2 separate regions of the Homo sapiens genome follow, and region 2 is linked to region 1. Evidence: fine-mapped expression QTL. Tissue or cell type: whole blood. Region 1 holds a variant in brackets; the other region holds the start of a gene. All regions are shown on one strand. Distances are between the middles of the regions.

Region 1 (8,206 bases):
TTGCTTTGACATTGTTCCTTAAGGTGTTCAGAACACTTCACATAAGTTACCTCATCTACTCAACAGCACTAGGAAACATATTACTCCAGGTCCAGAGAAGAGACATGTGGAGAAGTTATATGTCTTTTTCAAGGTCAGAGGAATAACAGCAGAATCCAGTTATTGCTACTTTCAATGTAGTGTTGTATTTTTTTTTAACTGATACCACTTTTTGTTGACATTAACAATCATGACAATCATGATTCTACCCTCTCTGTAATTTTCATACAAATGCATTCAGAGTAACACTCCTAAATAAGGAATACATCCATCACTGCAGCCCTCAGCATGTCACCAACTTCTCACTGTTATATTATATCATTAATGCTTTGGGGATGAGGGCAGGGAAATGAAATGAAAAGATCAGGGAATTGAGCTGGGGTAACCCAGGGCTGCACAGCCCCCTTTCCCACATAGTCGTGTACCTGGGCCATGAGCCTCTGTAATGGAAACTAGCTGTCCTGAATCTTCCAGCCAGGAGCCCAGAGAAATCACCCGTGGGGCCCCTTATCTTCATTTCTCAAGCTCCTTAAGGGTGGATCCAAAATTCAACAGGAATGTTTGAACAGCTATGCTGTCACTTTGCCTGCATGACCAGCCCCCATTAAAGGAGAAACCAGAATGTCAGTAATAAACCAAACTGCCTTTCTTTTAAATTACTGTAGTTAAGCAACTAAACTACTCCAGGAGAGAAAAAAAGGGGTAAAGAAGTTGATTTGTACCACTGAGAACACTCCCGGGAACTTAATAAATATTGTAATTTTCTAAATAATACTTGATGATAGAAAAAAAATCCTTCTGATGTGCCATGTCAAAACCTTAAGTATGTTTACAATTTCTCTGAGAGATGCATTTCTCTCTTACCCTGTAAATTAAAACATCACAATTAAAAGGAGAGGAGGAGCCGGGCATGGTGGCTCACGCTTGTAATCCCAGCACTGTGGAAGGCTGAGGTGGGCCGATCACCTGAGGTCAGGAGTTTGAGACCAGCCTGACTAACATGGTGAAACCCTGTCTCTACTAAAAATACAAAAATTAACCGGGCGTAGTGGCGGGCATCTGTAACCCCAGCTACTCGGGAGGTTGAGGCAGGAGAATCACTTGAACCCGGGAGGCAAAGGTTGCAGTGAGCCGAGATGGTGCCACTGCACTCCAGCCTGGCAACAGGGCGAGACTCCACCTCAAAAAAAAAAAAAAAAAAAAAAGAGTAGGAGGTTAAGAGAATTTTCTATATATTGAGGGTTTTCTTTTTTCTTTTTGAATAGGCAATCTCATTTCAGAAAGAGGCAATATCAATGCCTCTGAGGTACTAAAACATAAATCTGACAATGCATTTTAATTACATGTGGTTATTAAAGAATAGTCTTTAATTTGCTCTTTCCACCCTTTATATCGAAGAAATGGCTTTTTCTGTGCCAGATACTTACTTCTCGCAAAAGCTTAACTCAAATACATTTACAGCTTCCTTGTCATTATAGTCACTGGGAGGCACAGCTAAACCTGAAACTAAAGGTTAAACCAAATTAAAACTAAAGGTTAAAGGAAAGCACTAAGCACTTCTATGTCAATTTATAGATGAATCACTTATGTATTCTTTTCCTTCCTAAATAAGGGCCTACACTGCTCCTGCAGAGCTTTTTCTTTTTAATTCTTTATTTAACCTACATCATGCAGGGAGTTTGCTCTTAAACATAGATGCTGTGGGCAAAAGAATGTTTTGGTGATAATAAATAATAGTATTCAAATGCTTGCCAGCTGGGTTCAGTATTTGTAAAATCAGTAATTAAGATGCATCCGGCTGGGACACTGGCTGAGTTGTCTAACTCCTTTCTGGTACCAAACTCTCTTGCCTCACGCACTTACTCTTTCTTGCAAGAGGCTTTTACCCCTACCAGTGTTGAGCCTGCCTCAAGCTCTTCCCCTCTCTTTTATTTTTATTTATCATTTTTTTGAGACGGAGTCTCGCTCTGTTGCCCAGGCCAGAGTGCAATGGCAAGATCTCGGCTCACTGCAAGCTCTGCCTCCCAGGTTCAAGTGATTCTCCTGCCTCAGCCTCCCAAGTAGCTGGGATCACAGACACGTGCCACCACATATGGCTAATTTTTATATTTTTAGTAGAGACAGGGTTTCGCGCTGTTGGCCAGGCTGGTCTTGAACTCCTGACCTCAGGTGATCCACCCGCCTCAGCTTCCCAAAGTGTTGGGATTACAGGTGTGAGCCACTGCGCCCAGCTCCTTCTTCTTTAAATAGTCTTTCCTTGGTCGTCCTTCCTTGGTCATCTTTCCAAAACAGCACTGTACTGCAGGTTAAAAAAAAAAAAAAAAAAAAAAAAAAAAGGGCTGGGCGGTGGCTCACGCCTGTAATCCCAGCACTTTGGGAGGCCGAGGCCGGCGAATCACGAGGTCAGGAGATGGAGACCATCCTGGCTAACACAGTGAAACCCCGTCTCTACTAAAAATACAAACAAATTAGCCGGGCGTGGTGGCGGGCGACTGTAGTCCCAGCTACTCTGGAGGCTGAGGCAGGAGAATGGCGTGAACCCGGGAGGCGGAGCTTGCAGTGAGCCGAGATCGCACCACTGCACTCCAGCCTGGGCGACAGAGCGAGATTCCGTCTCAAAAAAAAAAAAAAAAGGGTGGCCGGGCGTGGTAGCTCACACCTGTAATCCCAATACTTTCGGAGGCTGAGGTGGGTGGATAACTTGACGTTAGGAGTTCTAGACCAGCCTGGCCAACATGGTGAAACCCTATCTCTACTAAAAATACAAAAAAATTGCCAGGCATGGTGATACTTGTCTGTAATCCCAGCTACTCAGGAGGCTGAGGGAGAAGAATTGCTTGAACCCAGGAGTCAGAGGTTGCAGTGAGCCGAGATCACGCCACTGCACTCCAGACTGGGTGATGGAACGAGACTCCATCTCAAAAAAAAAAAAAAAAAAATGAGGTTCTCCTCTGGCTGCACCATTTATGAGCTGTGTGAACATTAGTAAATTATTTCACTTTTCTGAGACCAAGTTTCTTCATCACTATCTACTTTGAGTGGTTTTTGTGAAGATTATACATAATATATGTAAGGCACCTATAGAGTGCTGGCACATGGTCAGTGCTCCACTAGTAACGGCTGGATGATATTATGGTTATTCCTGTAACATTTTGTGTTCCCAACCTGGACACCCACCCTGATTCCTTAATCTTTTTTTTTTTAAGAGGCGGGGTCTTGCTATGTTGCCCAGGTTGGTCTTCAACTCCTGGCCTCAAGCCATCCTCCTGCCTCAGCCTCCTGAGTAGCTGGGATCACAGGTGCGAGCCACCACCTTGATTCCTGATTCCCTAATTTTGAATAAAATGCAATGGCTTGAAATAGAATTTGGGGAAATTTGCCCCCAAATTTAATATTGAATTTCTAACAAACAACACATTCCTCAAGTCTATGAGGATGCATTTATAGATACAAAACCTTCTATGACGCAAATTAGAAAGGTAATTTAGTATTTGTAATTTACTTGCTATCATGACCTGGTCTCAGACTAAGGATAATATTTTATGCTAGTTTTTAATGCTAAATGTATTTTCCTATTGTGAGTTCAATTTGTTCCTCAATTGCTCTTCTGTTTTTCTACTTTGTATGTTACCATACTATGTCCATTTTAAAACATCACATTCAGGGCAACAAATAGGTGTTTTCCTGAATTAATTTGCCTATAAAAACTAGGTACAGTGTGGTCTAGCACAATGGGCATTCAAAGAATTCTTTTTTGGTTTCCATGGACACTATTGCTGACTTCATTTCCCAGCCTCTTGCTATAGTCTCTCACCTAAACTCTAAGATATGGAAAGATATTGGGATCAGCAGGTAATAAACGAGTATTTCACATTATATTTACTAACCAGGTAACTACTTAAGTGCTGGATAAATGACTCAAAACAAAACATTAATTTCATTAGCTGCATATACCCCCATTAAAGAAGGTGAGCTGGGCCAGGCACGTGGCTTACGCCTATAATCCCAGCACTTTGGGAGGCTGAGGTGGGCGGGTCACCTGAGGTCAGTTCGAGACCAGCCTGGCCAACATGGTGAAACCCTGTCTCTACTAAAGATACAAAAAACAAAACAAAAAAAAGTAGCCGCGCATGCTGGCGCGTGCCTGTAATCCCAGCTACTCAGGAGGCTGAGACAGGAGGATGGCTTGAACCCAGGAGGCAGAGGTTGCAGTGAGCCAAGATCACACCATTGCACACCAGCCTGGGAGACAGGGCGAGACTCCGGCTCAGAAAAAAAGAAGGTGAGCTGGTGAGTGGGGTGAGATATTTTTAGGCTAATATATTCATATATATATATATATATATATATATATATATATATATATATTTTTTTTTTTTTTTTTTTTTTTTTTTTTGAGACAGAGTCTCGCTCTGTCGCCCAGGCTAGAGTGTGGAGGCACGATCTTGGCTCACTGCAACCTCCACCTCCCAGGTTCAAGCAATTCTCCTGCCTTAGCCTCCAGAGT[C/T]GCTGGGACTACAGGCATGTGCCACCACTCCCAGGTAATTTTTGTATTTGTAGTAGAGATAGGGTTTCACCATATTGGCCAGGCTGCTCTTGAACTCCTGACCTTGTGATCCGCCCTCCTCAGCCTCCCAAAGTGCTGAGATTACAGGCGTGAGCCATCGTTCCCGGCCAAAATATATATATATATATTTGATACAGAGTCTCACTCTGTCGCCCAGGCTGGAGTGCAGTGGCACGATTTCGGCTCACTGCAACTTCTGCCTCCCAGGTTCAAGCGATTCTTCTGCCTCAGCCTCCCGAAGAGCTGGGATTACAGGTATGCACCACCACACCTGACTAATGAATGCTGACCTCAAGTGATCCGCCCACCTTGGCCTCCCAAAGTGCTGAGATTACAGGTGTGAGCCACTGTGCCCAGGCCCAAAAGTTTTTTATATGTAAGTCCATGTTAAAGGATGACTCACCAAAATGCATTGCACACTACTCAAATGAAAGGAAGACAAAGTCTCTACCTATAAGGCACTTAAAGTGTATTTCAGATGGGAATGTCTAAAGAATATGGGATGTTCTAAACATGGACTATCTAAAAAACAAATTGAGGCCAGGTGCAGTGGCTCAAACCTATAATCTCAGCACTTTGGGAGGCTGAGGCGGGTAGATCACCTGAGGTCAGGAGTTCGAGACCAGCCTGACCAACATGGAGAAACCCTGTCTCTACTAAAAATACAAAATTAGCTGGGTGTGGTGGCACATGCCTGTAATCCCAGCTACTCGGGAGGCTGAGGCAGGAGAATCACTTGAACCCGGGAGGTGGAGGTTGCAATGAGCCAAGATCGCACCACTGCACTCCAGCCTGGGCAACAAGAGTGAAACTCCGTCTCAAAAATAAATAAACAAACAAATAAATAACAAAGTGAAATACACACAAGTCCTAATAATATGGTATAGACTGAAAAATTTCTGAGGCGTTAGTTCAAAATAATGGAAACATTAACAAAATGAAATCATACTGAGAAAGAGTTCTTACAGAAGAAAAGCTTCCAGTTGAGCCTTGAGCAATGTATAGGATTAACTGATAGGGTAGTAAGACATTCTAGAGGAAAAAAAAAAAATTACAGGACTTAACAGGGTACATGTCAGAGGTCAGAGCAAAGGCGCTTATATAGTAAGATAAGGAGAATTGACAGAGTTATAGAGATGGGGTATAGAGATAATTGGTTAAAGACAACTGCAAGGTTATAAGCCTAAGAGTAACAGGATGGTACCACCACCACCACCAGAATGACAGAAATGAGGCAGTTGAGAGGAAATACCATGGCTGGGCATGGTGGCTCATGCCTGTAATCCCAGCACTTTGGGAGGAGGAGGATCGCTTGAGCCCAGGAGTTTGAGACCAACCTCGGCAGCATAGCAAGACCCAGTCTCTAAAAAATAAATAAATAAAAAGAGGAGACACCAGTATATTAGAGAAGAAGTGTATTTATTTAACATTTTAAATTTCAAATGATGGCAACATGTTTAAGTAGAAAGTCCTGAAAACAACTGACTAGGTCTAAAAAAGAGAAAAAGATCTTCAATCTTGGGATGCGTTGCCAACACAACATGACAGTAGATGTCACACTTAGGTTTGCAAAAAATATAAGCATTTGGGGTTCATTTCAGTATTGGTCTAATTTAAATAAATGTGAAACGAGCCTTAAAAATGTACTTTCCAGTACTTTTGGTATTTTTCATAAATATTTAGATAAAAAAGAAAGACAATTCATCTCCTTTAGACAGACAGTTCAGGGTAAGACTGTCCATAATTTTAACTATCCCTTTCCTCCCAAGTCACATTTTTGTTAGGACTAAATATATCATACTCTTGGCAGTTCCCTTGCTTGCTTTCTCCCCATTCTGAGTTTGAATTTTCTGCATGACTGAGTTCACCTCCAAACTATGAAAAATAAAAGTTTTCTCACTATTTAATAGATGTGTATGATATGGTATCACTCAGATGATATATGTTTTTATAATGGGTGCTTGACTCATTCAGGGTCATGCTAGCAATAGACTTCCTTAAATGTGATTACTGAAAGCATGGCAATTCATATCATAATCTTCATTTTAAGAAATAAATAAGGAAAACGGCCACTTAAAGCTCCTGCTGTGTTGGTCAGTCCTACTCCTCCACTTCAAGGTGCAAAATGGCTCACCTGTCAAAAGGTTCTCTCAAAACCTATTTTTATCAGAAATGAGCTCCTTATCACACAAGAGCAGCTAAGTAAATACCACAAAATACTATTTTCCCACATTTTAAAAGAGTGACTCGACTAATGGTCTGCAAAAAATCCAAGACCTTATTTTTAGGGGTAAAAAAGAGAGCTGTAGACCCAGAAGGCCGAATGCGGTCTTTAAAGGATTCCACGTAATCTGAAAATTCCACGTATATTTCTATAGCAGGATGAGAATTTTTAGCCCAGTATAGCACAGTCCTTTTTATTTACATTTGCTAAGATTACATTGGTAAGATTAATATTTCCGATTTCAGGTTTGCCTAAAGGACCCACTGCATTTATGGAGAAACTGAAAAATGAAAAAGTAGCTCCTAGAACTCGTGCCAGCGAGAACTTGGTAAATGTTAGTTGATTAAATATTAGTCAAGGATGACAAGGTGGACCCCAGGGAGGGCAGAACCGTTTCCGATGGGTCAGTGTGATTCAGCTACGGGAAAGGCGATCGCAGCGACGCGGGAAGCAGAGATCGGCGACTGCTCAAGAGGCCTCAGGGGACAGGGTGACTCGCCACTGTGCCCTACCATACAGTGCGCTCTGGGAGTCCCGGGTAAAGGGGGTCATTCCCGCGAGGGATGCGGAGAGCAGAGCGGCCGGAGGAGCGGCTAGGGATCTCGCCGGGTCACCGGGGAGGGTAGACTACGTAGCCCCGAGAGCTTTGAGAACTTGGGCTGAAGGCGGCGCTCGCCGTGAGAACTGACGCGGAGGTGCAGCTTTGCAGCCCTACAGATGTTCTACCGCGTGTGCCTGGCGCTACCGCACGGGCTGACTCAGCTAGGCAGAGGCGGAGGCGGGCGCGCGGGAGACAGAACTATCCGCGGCGCCTGCCCGTGTACCCGGCTACCGCGCGCACGCGGGGAGACACCGCCCCGTTTGCCTTCTGGCTCCCGGTGATTGGCGGTTAGACGATGGCTGGGGAGCAGGGTCACGGACACTATTGGCTGCAAACAACAGTCACTCAAAAAGTCAGGTAGGGGAGGGGCCTCCTCAGGGAGGGACAAGACTGTGAGGCTTTTTCAAGGCCGTCAGACGCCATCTTTAGCTTGTTTTTGTTTACTTGCTTTTGTTCTCTGCTGCTCACAAACCTGTGTGTACACGATTATAAGCACAGTGGCCACAAATCGGCGTCACACGTTGGGTGGTGGCCGACTTTTAGTTACTGCTGGCCTCGGTTACATTTCTTTCACATGTCACCTGCAAATTAGCAGCTCCTCACAGTTCAAAGAAGTTTCCAATACTAGGGGCCCCGAGGATTCCCAGGCAAAATCAACAGAGTTTAGTTTTGCTTTGCTTTGGAAGGCCAAGCCAACGATATATATGTGCGAGGAATTCTCTCCTTTCTTAGGAAGAAAAAGCAAGAACAGTGGATATGACCCTACGTTCCTGGA
Region 2 (6,114 bases), 46 kb before region 1:
TTTTTTTTTTTTTTTTGGAGTCTTGCTCTGTTGCCCAGGCTGGAGTACAGTGGCACGATCTCAGCTCACTGCAAGCTCCGCCTCCCAGGTTCACACCATTCTCCTGCCTCAGCCTCTGGAGTAGCTGGGACTACAGGTACCCACCACCACGCCCAGCTAATTTTTCGTATTTTTAGTAGAGACAGGGTTTCACCGTGTTAGCCAGGATGGTCTCGATCTCCTGACCTCGTGATCCACCCACCTCAGCCTCCCAAAGTGCTGGGATTACAGGTGTGAGCCAATAAATGCTTTTTACTAGAAAAGGCAAGAACCTGGATAAGACCTCTCTGGATAAATCATCAAACCTTTTGCAAGTGGCTACTCTTACCTTGTTGAAGTATTTCCATCCCTTCTCCAGGTGAGCAGAAATCCCCGGATGCCATTTGATTTTCTTGGGATTCTAATCTGTGGAACCAAGAAGTGAAAGAAAACAAAAAGATGAATAAACAGCTGGCTGCTCCAAGGACACTACCTTATGTTCAAATTTCTGCTGTCCACAAGCTGGAAAGGAACCTCAAGGATGACTTTTACAGAGGGCCTATACCACACATCCTGGGTCCCAAGCTCTTACACAAGCTTTATGGACAAACAGATTTACAAGTGCCAAAACATGTCACATTCTAAGCACACATGTGTTTCCACTTGCTCCAAGCTGTCCAAAAGGAGCATCCTAAAAAGAGAACTTTCCAATTCACTGAGTCTAAACAAGAGGATTCTCCACCACCACCACCATTATGCCAAAGTTAAAACTGAGCTGCAGCTTCCCAGTTATGAGTGAACTGGGGGAAAAGGGAAAAAAATCAAAGTCTACTTTTTCCCCCCAAATAACTCAGCTATCAAATTCCATAATAGTTTTTTTGTGCTTCTTTTTTTGTCTAAGATCTGTTGGTAGTTTTTTTTTTTTTTATCATTAACTCTAGAATCATCCTTCAGGAATGACAAATCATTCCACACTTGAACAACTGGTTTTCACATAACAGCCTAAGAAAAGAGCACCTGGAGGAAACAGCGTGACAAGAAGACTGACAGTGAGGTCAGTGGCAAAAGAGTAATGCAAAGGTGTAATGTGGCTACAACGAGAACGTGAGCTGTGGGTGTTTTGCCAGAACATGGAGTGCGCTGAAAGGAATGACACCAACACAGGGGCAGTAAAGATGGGCACAGTTTGACCTCAGGAGACAAAAATTTTCCCTTGACATTACTTTTCATGTTTTTGCTCTGCCCCTCCTCTCTGCAAGGTATCAAACTCCAAAGGGCAACTGAGCCTCCCAAAGCTGAACAGGCATTGAAGGTTATTATGATTTAACGCTTCATGTTTATAGAACATTTGGTTTACTCGATCGTTTTATGAGTAACATCAAAGTAACTACTCATTTGTTTTCTAACATGGTCTAGAGGGGGACGCAGCTGAGGAGGCAGAATGCTGGGACTTAATTTGCAGCTCGGCCGGCCGTTGCTTCTGAGAACTTAAGGAAAATGCTTTTTTCTGTGCCAAACTTTTCCCACCTGCAAAACTGAGATAACGATTCCTGCCTTGGATGAGACATTAAGAATTAATAACACAATCGACTTGTCAACAAAAGCCACTACTTAGTTAAGTTCAGTGTTTTAACAATTCTGTTTATCGTTGATCTATGACTGCAAATAAAAAGTTTTGCAGGCAAATTTCGCACTTGGAAATGAAGACCAACCCAAATTCCAAAAAGCTAGCTGTTCGTCCCCCCCTAGGGTAAGTGTCCCCTTGCGTTTTTTAGGGTGCCTTTCTTTACCCTTCTTAAAGGTTACAGGGCGTGAACGGCAATCAGGCTCGATTCTCCACCCTCTGCACTCAGACGTGTTAAAACGCTGCTACAGGGACCCAAGCATTTAAATGTTCTGACTCAGGCGTCTTTTAAATTCTTAGAGCTGTCTTTACACGCTGCACTGAACGTTAAATTGATTTTACAGGTTATTTTCACAAGATATGACCCTTACAGGGCCCGAGATGAATCAAAATGCAGAACGGGCTCTCCGGCGCCTACTTCCCTTCTGTCTGGGCGGCCAAGGATTCCCAAGAGCGACGACGGTCTCCGGCCACTGGCCGGAATGACTCTCCCAGAGCTCCTCTTCCCCGAAGCTCCGCCCGCCGACCCTCTAAAGCAAACCTGCACACCCTGGGGCAGCTGAAGCTCTCAAGGCGGTGCCGAGAACCTCGGCTGGGGCGGGCTGGCCAGCAGCGTCTACACCCCAGAACCCGCCCGCGCCGGGGCTCCGGAACCTCTCGTTCGGGCCGGGCGCAGGGGCTGGGGGAAGCGAGGCCCGGAAAGACCAAGCTGAAAGGCCCGGGAAGGGGAAGGAGCCGAAAGTGCACTAGAGGCCGCGACGAAGGAGGTGGAGGCGGGGCCACACTCGAGGCGGGAACGGCAGGCCCCGCCCCTCGACGGGTGCGCGCTGGGTTCCCAACGCCCTGGGTTCGCATGCTCGGGTGGTGGAACCCGGACTGGGAAACAGGATGGTCTCGGAAAGGCTTTTTTGCCCCTTCTCATTAGTGCCTCCCCAGTGAAGGGCAGATGCTGAGAAAATGGTGGTAATTGCTAACATTTATTGAGGGCCTACGATGAGTCAGGCACTACGCCAAGCATTTTGCTTGCCTTGCCTCGTTTTTTTTTTGAGACGGAGTCTCGCTCTGTCGCCCAGGCTGGGGTGCAGTGGCGCAATATCGGCTCGCTGCAAGCTCCGCCTCCCGGGTTCAAGCAATTCTCTGCCTCAGCCTCACGAGTAGCTGGGATTACAGGTGCCCGCCACCACGCCCGGCTAATTGTTGTATTTTTAGTAGAGACGGGGTTTCACCGTGTTAGCCAGGATGATCTGGATCTCCTGACCTCGTGATCCACCCGCCTCGGCCTCCCAAAGTGCTGGGATTACAGGCGTGAGCTACCGCCCTCGGCCAGGCCTCGTTTAGTTCTTAAAGCGTCCTGTGAGAAAGTCACCATTATACTCATTTTACAGAGGGGGAGAACTGAGGCACAAAGGGTTAAGTTCGAGGTCGCCATTTGGGGGGTCTAAACCTGTCCCAATAGCTCTCGGAAGGAACCTTCCCAGACCTGCCACCCAAGCCGCGTCCTGCGAGTCTCCTCACTAAGGCCTGGCTCTGAGGCGCTGCCGCCCAGCCCAGCCCAGCCCAGCCCAGCCCATGCCGGGCACCATACAGTGCTTCCTCAGGGTCACCTTCCTCTCGAATTCCCACCACAGACTCCCTATTAGCGCGCATTCCTCATTCGCCTGTTTTGTTTGTTTGTTTGTTTGTTTTCTTGGGGGTACGGAGTTTCGCACTTGTTGCCCAGGCTGGAGCGCAGTGGCACGATCTCGGCTCACCGCAACCTCCACCTCCCAGGTTCAAGCGATTCTCCTGCCCTAGCCTCCTGAGTAGCTGGGATTACCCGCACGAGCCACCACGCCTGGCTAATTTTTATATTTTTAGTAGAGACAGAGTTTCACAATATTGGCCAGGATGGTCTCGCACTCCTGACCTCAAGCAATCTGCCCGGCCAAATATCTTTCACCTGTCTTAATCTTTTTTTTTTTTTTTTTCCAGACGGAGTCTTGCTCTGTTGCCAGGCTGGAGTGCAGTGGCGCGATCTCTGCAACCTTCACCTCCCGGGTTCAAGCGATTCTCCTGCCTCAGCCTCCTGAGTAGCTGGGACTACAGGCGGGCGCCACCACGCCCAGGTAATTTTTTTTGTATTTTTAGTAGAGACGGGGTTTCACCACGTTGGCCAGGATGGTCTCAGTCTCCTGACCTCGTGATCCGCCCGCCTCGGCCTCCCAAAGTGCTGGGATTACAGGCATGAGCCACCGCGCCCGGCCCACCTGTCTTAACCTTAAACCCAACCCTCACTCCCACCCACACCTTCGGTGAATTATTTCAAAAATATAAATTTAAAAAAATAAAGAGCTGGGCATGGTGGCTCACGCCTGTAATCCCAGCACTTTGGGAGGCTGAGGCGGGCGGATCACGTGAAGTCAGGAGTTTGAGACCAGGCTGGCCAACCTGGTGAGACCCCCGTCTCTACTAAAAATACAAAAAATTAGCTCCAGAGGCTGAGGCAGGAGAATCGCTTGAACCCAGGAGGCGGAGGTTGCAGTGACCTGAGATCGTGCCACTGCACTCCAGCCTGGGCAACAGAGTGAGACTCGGTCTCGAAAAAAATTAAAAATAAATAAAAATTAAAAATAAAGAAAATGTTTAGGCGGGGTGCAGTGGCTCATGCCTGACCCAGCACTTTGGGAGGCCGAGGCAGGAGGATCACTTGAGCCCAGGAGTTCGAGACCAGCCTGGGCCACATGGCGAGACGATCCCCATCTCTACAAAAAAAAAATACAAAAAGAAAATATGCAATACTAAGTAAACTGTGCCAAGTATATCACATCTTTTACATTAGATAAGGTGATAGCCTGGAGTGATAGGAAAGGAATCTCCGTTAGGTGTGCTGAGAGATGGGGAGTTTCGCCTTTTCCTTCAGTACCAGCTACAGAATTCTATTAATATGCATAGAGGAATGGTGTGGTCCAGTGAAGAAATTTTATATTCTTGGTCAGCTCATCAGCTGCCACCTTTCATGCTTAATATTGAACTGCTGTCATTTTCTGAAGCTTTTAAAAATCATTTATGCTTCCTCAGCTCTGAAGCACAGCAAAGTTAAATATCAGGCATAATGTCCATAGCAAACGGCACTTGGAACAAAATAGCAAGTATGCTTTGGTGACTCAGAGCTGATCGGAAATCTACTGAAATTTTGTCTCTCAGATTTGTCAAGTTCTCTAATATGGTACTACGAAGCTTTGGCTAAAGTACTTTGGGGAATGAGGGGGTGAAGGATGGAGCAAGCTGTCTTCAGGTAGGAGGACAGAGGGGATAGTGATGCAAAGAAGCCTTGAATTGGATCAGACCTTCATGTGCAATTATCTGTTCCATCTCTGTCTCTACAAGTTGTGTGACCTTGGGCTTCAGGGTCCTTATCTGTCAAAAGGAGGAAATAACTTATTTCTAGCTCCTCCAATCTCATAGTGTCGATGTAATGATCAAATGAGATAATGGCTGAGAAAGTGCATTGGAAAGACTAAAAGTGAGGTGTTTTAAATTGACACTTATTATGCACCTATTAAGTGCCTTGGGAGAGACACAAAGCTAAATATGGCCCAGTCCTTGCCCCAAAGATGTTCATAATCTAAAAGATAAGACGTATGCACATGAAAAGCAAATAATACAAGGCAGCAAACTGGTGTCAAAAGAGCAGTTTAGATTATAAATACTAGAGAAACATGAAGAAGGTACAGAATTCTTTCTGCAGAAATAGATAGGATAGAATAGATGAAATAAATCTTACTTTCATTGGGCCTGAAAGGATAGAGAAAATTTGGATCATTTAGAATGAAGGAAACATCCCAGCAAATGGAAGCAGAGACAAGGGGAGTATAAACTGCATTCTAGGTCCAAGAGGAGACAGGACCAACCGAAGTGAAGGATTTTATAGGCCAGCTCTACGTAAGACTGGAAAGTTAAGCCTATAGTCCATCCTGGCAGTTAAAAATGCAGCAAAGGCCGGGTGCGGTGGCTCAAGCCTGTAATCCCAGCACTTTGGGAGGCCGAGGCAGGCAGATCACGAGGTCAGGAAATCAAGACCATCTTGGCTAACACGGTGAAACCCCGTCTCTACTAAAAATACAAAAAATCAGCTGGGCGTGGTGGCGGGTGCCTGTAATCCCAGCTACTCAGGAGGCTAAGCCAGGAGAATGGCGTCAACCCAGGAGGCGGAGCTTGCAGTGAGCGGAGATTGCACCACTGCACTCCAGCCTGGGCGACAGAGAGAGACTCCATCTCAAAAAAAAAAAAAAAAAAAAAAAGAGTGCAGTGAAGTGCTGGGAAAAAAAGTTTATAATCAGACACCATCCGGTGTCCTTGAACAAGAAAGAATTGTAAGAAAGGACCTAGAATTCATTCATATTCTCTCTCTCTCTCTCCCTCTGTCCTTCTCTTTCCCTCTTTTTTGCCAGAATTTTAAAAAACAGCTTCATTGAGGTATTTTGGCACACAGT

The links. PIP is the estimated chance that this variant, and not a neighbour inherited with it, causes the effect.
Region 2: it holds the start of HAUS4, and the variant in region 1 is fine-mapped to the expression of HAUS4 in whole blood (INTERVAL, PIP above 0.99). The same link has a PIP of 0.9 or more in monocytes.

What each region holds. Positions count from the first base shown.
Region 1 is chr14:22,999,493-23,007,698 of GRCh38, forward strand. All of the region lies in intron 1 of C14orf93 (chromosome 14 open reading frame 93), which reads right to left. It overlaps LOC124903286 (a long non-coding RNA gene), which reads left to right and starts at 2,934. Exons shown (of 2, transcript XR_007064075.1): 1 at 2,934-3,891; 2 at 7,076-8,206. RefSeq lists an enhancer at 7,149-7,518 and a silencer at 7,679-7,728. The variant C/T (reference allele first, on the strand shown) is at 4,547.
Region 2 is chr14:22,954,733-22,960,846 of GRCh38, forward strand. It overlaps HAUS4 (HAUS augmin like complex subunit 4), which reads right to left and starts at 2,358. Exons shown (of 10, transcript NM_001166269.2): 1 at 2,184-2,358; 2 at 368-444. The coding sequence starts at 422. MIR4707 (microRNA 4707) reads right to left here and starts at 2,297; the gene lies at 2,218-2,297. RefSeq lists enhancers at 2,050-2,179, 2,562-3,141, 3,142-3,720 and a silencer at 3,520-3,880.